Homo sapiens: one gene and its partner. The protein of the gene in region 2 purifies or fractionates together with the protein of the main gene of each other region. This does not show direct contact. Each region holds a gene or a part of one and is shown on either strand. Other genes may lie near its edges.

Region 1 (4,269 bases), on a different chromosome or scaffold from region 2:
GGCACATGCCTGTAATCCCAGCTACTTAGGAAGCTGAGGCACGAGAATTGCTTGAACCCTGGAGGTGAAGGTTGCAATGAGCCGAGATCGTACCACTGCACTTCAGCCTGGGCGACAGAGCAAAGCTACACCTTTTTTTTAAAAAAAGAATGATTCAGGAGTTGTGTCAAGGTAGTTGTCATTCCTATGTAATTGAACCAAAGTTTTCTTGGTCTCATAAATACATATAGTAAAAACAAGTGTAGTTCAGTTGTCTGGTATTCTTAATTAAAGATACTATGGTCTGGTTTTTTGATTGATTTTTTTTTTGTTTTGTTGCTTAATAAATTATAACATAGTGAGAATGAGTCCCTTTGGAAGGAGGTGTCAGAATTACGAGCAAAGCATGCACAACAGCAACAAGTTATTCGAAAGGTAAGAAGCTCTTTTCCCCAGGACCATAATTTGCATTTGTTTAATGAGTACTGTTTGTGACCCAAAAAGGTCTTTATTGAGTGTCTGTGATTGATCTTAGTTTCTTACATATTGGATGCACAGATAGAAGTAAAAAATGAAATGAAATTAAGCCAAGTGTTACACATTTTTAATAAAAAATTTCTCACTAGCTAAAGATGGTTATTCCATACTCGCAGATAATGTCTCAGTAGCTTTTAGTAAATGATCTTTTGCCTAATATAACAATTTTGAAATACTTTATTTTTATGAGCATAATGAATACACTACCAATTTCTTTTAAAATTAGAAAACATAGCCTTACTGGTTTTTTTTGTTGGTTTTTATTATAAAAGGCATAGTTAAGGTCTCAGAAGATAAATGACAAATATTTTCAAATCAGTTGACCAAATTATGAGTTCAGAAAATGATTTCTCAATGTATGCTGTTATTAGTCTGTGGAGAAAAGCAGTTAACATAGTGTTGTAAAATGAATTTTAGATTTTAGTATCTGAGCTGAAAATTTAATAGAGGAGTTGGAATCCCTCCGTTTCATTGTGTCCTTGTGATTTAATCTTTGCATATCAGCTTTCATTTGCTAATAAGAGATGAAACATAGTAATTAAGGCAGCTATTTTTTGCTCATGAGTAAACTAGACTCTGAGTTTAAGCAACAGGTTTTTTGAGGGGGAGCTTCTGATTGCTCCTGCTTAGAAGGCCCTTGAACTAAAAATAGGGTTGTGACTGACAGGATCAGGGTCTAATGGAGAAGGCTTTAAAGCAGAGATGAGTAGCAGTTGCAGCCTGTAGCCTAGTCAACATAGATTTACTGTGTTTTTTTTTTTTTTTAAAGTGTGCAAGTGAAGGTTGAATGTAGTAGAATTCAGTTCTAAGTGTTTAGTCCAAGTACATGTATTTTTAAAACTTTCATAGGCAACTCTAATGTGCAGCCTGGTTAAGAATAGTTGACTTAAAACAATAGATGTACCTTAACCTGTACTTTATGGAAACAGTCTGTTAATACTTTTCAGAAACAGTGTTTTGGTAATATATTAGCTTACAACACTCTATAATGTGTAGATTTTTTTTTTCCTGAAAGCAAGAATAGTTGATAAAATAGCTATGTGACATTTCAGTTTTTCATGAATGCTAACATTCTGTCTGCTAAAATTTGAGTTTGAATCTCTGTGCTTTGGTGAGTGGTGTTTATATAATGCATGACGACAACCAATAATTTTTACTCTGCTCCTGGAATTTACTCTCAGCCATGGATTAATTGAGAATAATATGTGTGATGGTCCAGTTATAGGACTTAACAGGTACAGAAGTTACATGCTGTAAGTGTTAGACGCCTTATCTTCTTCAGATAAAAATCCCTGTGTAATGTGATCCAGAAGTGTCAACAGAGAACTGAGATGTAGAATAAATTTAATTTAGCCAGTGATTGATGTTCTTATAAATTCAACCTGAAGTTTTTAGAATATTCCCATAACATTTATTAATTAAAAAAACTGAAGTCGAATTGTATCATAGATATCTTTAAGCTTACATATTGTCTTTTCACTAGCTGTTAACATTTTCTCTTGAATAAGCAATTTAGTGTCTACCCTCCTTTTCATAGACTCTAATACTATGAACCTCTTCAGTTAAAATGTCTATATTTTTTTCCATTGAAAAATTGATATTGATTATAAGGCAGACCATTTAGTAGCCTTTTTTGTAAGGAAATGCTCACTGTTAGAACCTGTACAATAGATATTTTTAATTGATAATACTCTATTTAATCATGTAACTTCACAAAGCTTATAAGCACACTTTCTGCACAGAGTCTAAATAGTGCTCCAATCAATTTTGGCTTTTATTCATAGCTTCTCAGTGATATACTACTTTTTATAGTTTACCATATGATCCTCACCTTTTATAGCACCTTTAGGAAGTTGGCAATGTAATTTCAAGACATACTCTAAGCCAGTAGTTCTTATACTCACATCAGTATCCAGTCTACACTAAAGGGTTTTCTAAACATACTGGATCCCATGATCCGAATTTCAGATTCAGCAGTTCTGTAGTAGGATTGAGAATTTAACATATCCAAAGTTCCTAAGCTAGTGTTCCTGGTATTATGGGCCACACTTTAAGAAACACTACTATAAGATATGAAAGCTTGTTTGTGTGTCTTCACAATTTTCTCTCTAAATTTAATTAAATATTAAAGATTAGCTTCCCTTGTCAGTAGGAAGTTTTGACAGATAGGTCTCAACATTAATCTTTATAGAATCAGACAATAAACTTTTATCTTTTTCTTTTTTTTCTTTGGTTGCAAGCAGAGTTTGTTTGTTTAGAAATGGAGCATCACGATGTTGCCCAGGCTGGTCTCCGACTCCTGGGCTGAAGCAATCCTCCTACCTAGGCTTCCCAAAGTGTTGGGATTACAGGCATGAGCCACCACGCCTGGCCCATCACCTTTTTCTAACTCGAAAATTTCATGATTATTCTGAAGGAACTGACGGTTTATTTTGCCTCTGTTACCTGGTATAAGAAAAATGTTGCCTATCAAACACCAGTTTTCTCTTTTGCACCGTAGTGTAATCTTCAAAGTACTTGAAGTAAAAAAGTTGGGATCTATAGCCAGGCAAGTTTGGTACTTATCACCAAAACAAATAAACTGCCTGGAAGCTGGTATGTTTCTTTAGACGGTGGTTCTACGGTGCGTCTGGATTTCAAGTGTTAATATGTGAGAAATTATGAGACTTAGAGGACAAATTATTATATGAATTTGTTTTATAAGACTTGGTAATAGAGACAAAAGAATTAACAGTATAATGAAATAATTTTTGTTTATATTTTTTTCAGATTGTCCAGTTTATTGTTACATTGGTTCAAAATAACCAACTTGTGAGTTTAAAACGTAAAAGGTAAGTTTTTATGATAAAGTATTATGTCCTGTATATAGGCAGTCACACTTTTTAGTGTTTAACCATGAGTAGCCTACACTTGCTGAGTATGTGCTTGTTGTCCAAAAAGAACAATTCTCCTTTGTTAAATTATACTCTTAAAATCTCTAGAGTAGTATTATTTTTTAGTTTTATCATTCTGCTGATGTTTGTGAGAGATAAGGGTAGCCTAAATGGTCACTTTATAGACATACATACAGTTAATACAAAATATTCACTTTTCATTCACATTATTAAAGTAGCATTAGAAGGCCTGAGTGAAGGAAATTTTTAAAAAGAGGCCATATGTTAAAAAAAAAATGAAAATTTGTTTTACTTGACCTCTCTTAGTTTAAGCCACTCATAGTCTTTTTAAATCTGTATCTCAGCCATGGGTTGTGATACCTGTAAATGTCAGTAGCTACTATTGTCACAGCTAAAACATTAGAAGAATAATGGACAAAAGGAATAGTTGGAAGGAAAAAATGATCTGTAACACTAAGATTTGGGAAAAACTTGATTATGATCAGAGCTTTATGGCCTTAACTACTTCCACTAATTAGTTCTTATGATATTATCTATTTTTTTCTATATAAATACAGTTCATAGAGTTGTGTGGTTCGGTAAGCAATGAAGTATAACTGGAGAGAATAGCTTATTATAACAAAAAGAGTGTAGAAAAGTGGAGAACTGAAAGTCCTAGATATTCTCATCCAGCAGTTTCTGTTCCTAAGATGTAATCATTTTTAAGTTTATTTATTGTTACTGAAATTTTTTATTCATTATTAAGTGAGTGTGCATGTGTGTGTGTTTGGGTAAGTTAATAGAGGGAGTTTAAATTCATTGTATGTTTGCTTCACTGAACTGCATATTCTTCTGGTTTTCAGGCCTCTACTTCTAAACA
Region 2 (5,730 bases):
GTGCAGTGGCACAATCTCAGCTCACCGCAAGCTCTGCCTCCCAGGTTCACGCCATTCTCCTGCCTCAGCCTCCTGAGTAGCTGGGACTACAGGCGCCCATCACTGCGCCCAGCTAATTTTTTGTAAAAAATAAAAATATTTTTAAAAAAACAATTCCACAGCTCAAGTGCCATCTCTGCCACTTCAGCAATAGCCTATATTTGCTGAGCACTTGCTACCTGCTCTGAATTGTGTTAAGCACTTTGCATGTATTATCTCTTGAGCTTATGCCTGAGTATAAATCATATTTTTTCTTTTTTTTTTTTTTTTTTTTTTGAGACAGAGTCTTACTCTGTCACCCAGGCTGGAGTGCAGTGGCTTAATCTTCGCTCACTGCAACCTCCACCGCCTGGGTTCAAGTGATTCTCCTGTCTCAGCCTCTAGATTAGCAGGGATTACTGGCGCCCGCCACCACACCCGGCTAATTTTTTTGTATTTTTAGTAGAGACAGGGTTTCACCATGTTGGCCAGGCTGGTCTCGAACTCCTGACCTCAGGTGATCCATCCACCTCAATCTCCCAAAGTGCTGGGATTACAGGCGTGAGCCACCGCACCCAGCTCATTGTGATTATTTTATGAGATAGAAGATATAATAAAAGAAATCATGTTGGCTGGGCACGGTGGCTCACACCTGTAATCACAGCACTTTGGGAGGCCGAGACGGCTGGATCATGAGGTCAGGAGATCGAGACCATCCTGGCTAACATAGGGAAACCCCGTCTCTATTAAAAATACAAAAAATTAGCCAGGCATGGTGGCGGGCACCTGCAGTCCCAGCTACTCGGGAGGCTGAGGCAGGAGAATGGCGTGAACCCAGGAGGTAGAGCTTGCAGTGAGCTGAGATTGCGCCACTGCACTCCAGCCTGGGCGACAGAGCAAGACTCTGTTTCAACAACAACAACAAAAAGAAATCCAAGAGTGCTAAGGAGGCACAGAAGTGGGGTTTCTGAGCCAGCCAGAGTGGTGGGAGCGAGGAATCAGAAGGAGTGGGGGAAGAGGAGTAAATACTTTACTTTAGAGAAGGTAGTGGCTTCAAGGTTTCAGTAAGTAATACTTTTCCAGGCAAAGAAGATGGAGAATATTCCAGGCAGAACACAGCATGAACAAAGACCAAAGGGATGAAATTAGAATTCTGTACACAGTCATAAAAAAGAACAAAATCATGTTCTTTGCAGTAACATGGACGCAGCTGGAGGCCATTATCCAAAGCAAACTAATGCAGGAATAGAAAACCAAAGACTGCATGTTCTCACTTATAAGTGGAAGCTAAACATTGGGTTCTCATGGACAGAAAGATGGGAAGAAGAGACACTGGGGACTCGTGGCGGGGAGAAATCTCACCATTGGGTACTATTACTATGTTCAAGTACCTGCATGATAGGATCAATCTTACTCTGAATCTCAGCATCACTCAATATACCCATGTAACAAACCTGCACATGTACCCCTTGAATCTAAAAGTTGAAATTTTTATATAGATATAGATGTGTGTGTACGTAAATTAGAATTCCAGATCTCCCAGGCTCAGGGATTAGTATGAAAGAAAAGGGAATTGGTGGCCAGGCAGTGGTCATTCATGCCTGTAATCCCAGCACTTTGGGAGGCTAAGGTGGAAGCTCGCTTGAGCCCAGGAGTTCAAGACCAGCCCGGGCAACATAAGGACACCTCATCTTGGCCGGGCACAGTGGCTTATGCCCGTAATCCCAGCACTTTGGGAGGCTGAGGTGGGTGGATCACGAGGTCAGAAGTTCAAGACCAGCCTGGCCAAGATAGTGAAACCCCGTCTCTACAAAAAATACAAATACAAAAAATTAGCCAGGCATGGTGGCAGGTACCTGTAATCTCAGCTACTCGGGATGCTGAGGCAGAAAATTGCTTGAACCTGGGAGACGGAGGTTGCAGTGAGCGGAGATTGCGCCACTGCACTCCAGCCTGGGCAACAGAGCGAGACTCAGTCTTAAAAAAAAAAAAAAAAAAGGATACCTCATCTCTTTCTTAATTTATTTTTGAGATGGGGTTTCACTCTGTTACCCAGCCTGGAGTACAGTGGTGCAATCTCAACTCACTGCAATCTCCACCTCTCAGGTTCAAGCGATTCTCCTGCCTCAGCCTCCCATGTAGCTGGGACTATAAGCGTGTGCCACCACGCCTGGCTAATTTTTGTATTTTTAGTAGAGACAGGGTTTTGCTATGTTGGCCAGACTGATCTCGAATTCCTGACCTCAGGTGACCCACCCGCCTTGGCCTCCCAAAGTGCTGGGATTATAGGTGTGAGCCACTGCACCTGGCTACCTCATCTCTTAAAATATATATACACACACACATATACACACACATATATATACACATATATACACATATATATACGTGTGTGTATATATATATAAATTCCAGATCTCCCAGGCTCAGGGATTTTATATATATGTATTTTAAATATTTATTTTAATAATATATGTATTAAATATTTAATATATAATATTTATTATTTATATATATTTATATAATATACCATATTTATATAATATAGTATATTTATATAATAAATATATACTATATTTATATATAATATATACCATATTTAATATATATTTAATAATATAATTATATACATATTTTAAATATATATTTAAAATATATGTTTTAAATATATATATTTAAAATATATGTTTTAAATATATATTTTAAATATATATTTAAAATATATATTTTAAAATATATTTATTTAAAATATATATTTAAAACATATATTTTAAATATATATATTTTAAAAAAATATATTTTAAATATTTGAGGCAAGGTCTCGTTCTGTCACCTAGGCTGGGGTGCAGTGGCAGGATCATAGCTCACCGCAGCCTCGACCTTCTGGTCTCAAGTGATCCTCCCACCTCAGCCTCCTGAGAAGCTGGGATCACAGACGTATACCACCACACCTGGCTAATTTTTTTTATTTTTGGTAGAGACAGAGCCTCACTATGTTGTCCAGACTGGTCTTGAACTCCTCACCTCAAGTGATCTGCCCTCTTCAGCCTCCCAAAGTGCTGAGATTACAGGTATGAGTCACTGGACCCGGCTGGCATTCTAGCCTTGCCTGTCCCGCCACCTCCTTACCCCTCACCAGGTCCTCTCTCTGTCCTCTCTCCCACAGGTCCTTCCTGTTTATCCGCTCAAAGGTGCTGAGAGCCAACCTCCAGGCCTCCTCTGGCCCGAAGTGGGTGATGAGCAGCTGGGCCATTTCCAGGGGACCGGCCTTCTCCATGCTTCCCCAGGGGATCTTGCCTTCTCCCAGCTCTGTCGCGGTCCCCAGGTATAACTTGAACTTCTTCAGTTCCACAGCCTCGAGTTCTTCCAAGTAGGTGGACAGGCGACAGAGGCCGTCCCTGCCTGCGGTTCGTAGCATGGGGGTGCCGTGAGCCCCAAAGGAGAGGACCTGGAGGCTGAGATGCTCCTATGCACGGGACACAGGGCGACCCCAGCACACCTTCCATTGCATCATTCACAGGCAGCGGGCGGAGAGGCTGAGCCAGTGGTTGGAGGAGAGAGCAAGGGAGGAAAGACCTTTTGCTGAAATAATGCTTTCTCACTCTTCAGTTCCCTCCTGCCCTGCCCCACTCACCAATGGCTGTTCTGGGTGGAGAAGAGGAAGTTCGGGGGGAGATTAAGAAATCCGAGGAGCCACTTGGCTGATGAAAAAGATTTTCACTTCTGCTGTCTCTTCCTGGATCTCTTGACAAAACAGTCACTCTCTTTCCGCTTTCCTCTTGTTTTCCTCATTTCACTAGTGTGTGTGGTAGAGTGTATTATCAAAACTGCGACTGCGCCTCTTCCAGGGAGAATTTTTTTTTTTTTGAGACAGAGTCTTACTCTGTGGCCCTGGCTCTGCGATCTTGGCTCACCGCAACCTCTGCCTCCCAGGTTCAAGCGATTCTCCCACCTCAGCTTCCCTTGAGTAGCTGGGATTACAGGCGCCGGACACCACACCCAGCTAATTTTTGTGGTTTTAGAAGAGACAGGGTTTCACCATGTTGGTCAGGCTGGTCTCGAACTCCTGACCTCAGGTGATCCACCCGCCTCAGCCTTCCAAAGTGCTAGGATTACAGGTGTGAGCCACCGTCCCTGGCTTTTTTTTTTTTTTTTTTCTTTGAGTCAGAGTCTCACTCTGCCACCCAGGCTAGAGTTCACTGGCGTGATCTCAGCTCACTGCAACCTCCGCCTCCCAGGTTCCAGCGATTCTCCCACCTCAGCCTCTCAAGTAGCTGGGACCACAGACATGCGCCACCATGCCCAGCTAAGTTTTTGTAGTTTTGGTAGAGACAAGGTCTTCTTATGTTGCCCAGGCTGGCCTTGAACTCCTGAGCTCAAACGATCCGCCCACCTCAGCCTTCCAAAGTGCTGGGATTACAGGCATGAGCCACTGAGCCCAGCCTCAGGGAGAATTATTAAGGACCTCACGTAGGTCTGCTATTTTTTTTCTGTTCTCTCAGTCACAAGAGTGGCATGAGAGGGACTTTGCGGTAGGCAGGATGATGGTCCCCAAAGATATTCATGTCCTAATGGCCAGAACCTGTGACATTTCACCCTACATAGCAAAAGAGACTTAGCATATGTGACCAAATGAAGGCACTTCAGATGGGGACATTATCCTGGTTATCTGGGCAGGACCCATGGAATCACAAGAGTCTTTTTTTTGAGACAGAGTCTTGCTCTGTTGCCCAGGCTGGAGTGCAGTGGCACGAACTCGGATCACTGCAAGCTCCGCCTCCCAGGTTCACACCATTCTCCTGCCTCAGCCTTCCGTATAGCTGGGACTACAGGTGCCCGCCAACACGCCTGGCTAATTCTCTTTTTTTTGTATTTTTAGTAGAGATGGGGTTTCACCATGTTAGCCAGGATGGTCTTGATCTCCTGACTTCGTGATCCACCTGCCTCAGCCTCCCAAAGTGCTGGGATTACAGGCGTGAGCCACCGCACCCAGCCACAAGAGTCTTTATAAGAAGAAGACAGGAGGGTTAGTGTAAGAGGAAGATGTGACTGGGTGCAATGGCTCATGCCTGTAATCCTAGCACTTGGGGAGGCCAAGGCAGGTAGATCACCTGAGGCCAGGAGTTTCACACCAGACTGGTCAACACAGTGAGGCCCCATCTCTACAAAATATGTGTTAGCAGAATTTATGAATTCTGATGGAAGAGCAAGTTTATAATTCCCTCTGTCTCCTGCATCATGCCAACTTTGTTTCATGCTCCTAATCAATTAAGACCCCTCAGACACACACACACACACACACACACACACACACACACACACACACACACAAAAGCCTTCATAGCCAGGCGCAGTGGCTCACACCTGTAATCCCAGCACTTTGGGAGACTGAGGCGGGCAGATCACCTGAGGTCAGGAGTTTGAGACCAGCCTGGCCAACATGGTGAAACCCCGTCTCTACTAAAAATACAAAAATTAGCCGGGCTTGGTGGCACGCACCTGTAATCCCAGCTACTTGGGAGGCTGAGGCAGGAGAATCACTTGAACCCGGGAAGCAGAGGTTGCAGTGAGCCGAGACTGCGCCACTGCACTCCAGCCTGGGCAACAGAGCGAGACTCTGTCTCAAAAAAAGAAAAAAAAAATTAGCTGGGGTTTGGTGGCGGGTGCCTGTAGTCCCAGCTACTCAGGAGGCTGGGGCAGGAAAATCACTTG

Evidence for each region. Proteins that work in one complex are often made in the same cells at the same time.
Region 1: the proteins of NLRP12 (region 2) and HSF2 purify together in Homo sapiens (affinity purification with a luminescence readout; one large-scale study listed by IntAct). This does not show direct contact.

Annotation. Positions count from the first base shown.
Region 1 is NC_000006.12:122,415,883-122,420,151, forward strand, and holds part of HSF2 (heat shock factor protein 2), read left to right. Parts: intron 1-338; coding exon 339-414; intron 415-3,285; coding exon 3,286-3,347; intron 3,348-4,252; coding exon 4,253-4,269. UniProt on the Homo sapiens protein: DNA-binding protein that specifically binds heat shock promoter elements (HSE) and activates transcription. In higher eukaryotes, HSF is unable to bind to the HSE unless the cells are heat shocked.
Region 2 is NC_000019.10:53,820,739-53,826,468, forward strand, and holds the start of NLRP12 (NACHT, LRR and PYD domains-containing protein 12), read right to left. Parts: upstream 3,577-5,730; 5' UTR 3,437-3,576; coding exon 3,148-3,436; intron 3,140-3,147; exon of another isoform or gene 3,043-3,139; intron 1-3,042. UniProt on the Homo sapiens protein: Plays an essential role as an potent mitigator of inflammation. Primarily expressed in dendritic cells and macrophages, inhibits both canonical and non-canonical NF-kappa-B and ERK activation pathways.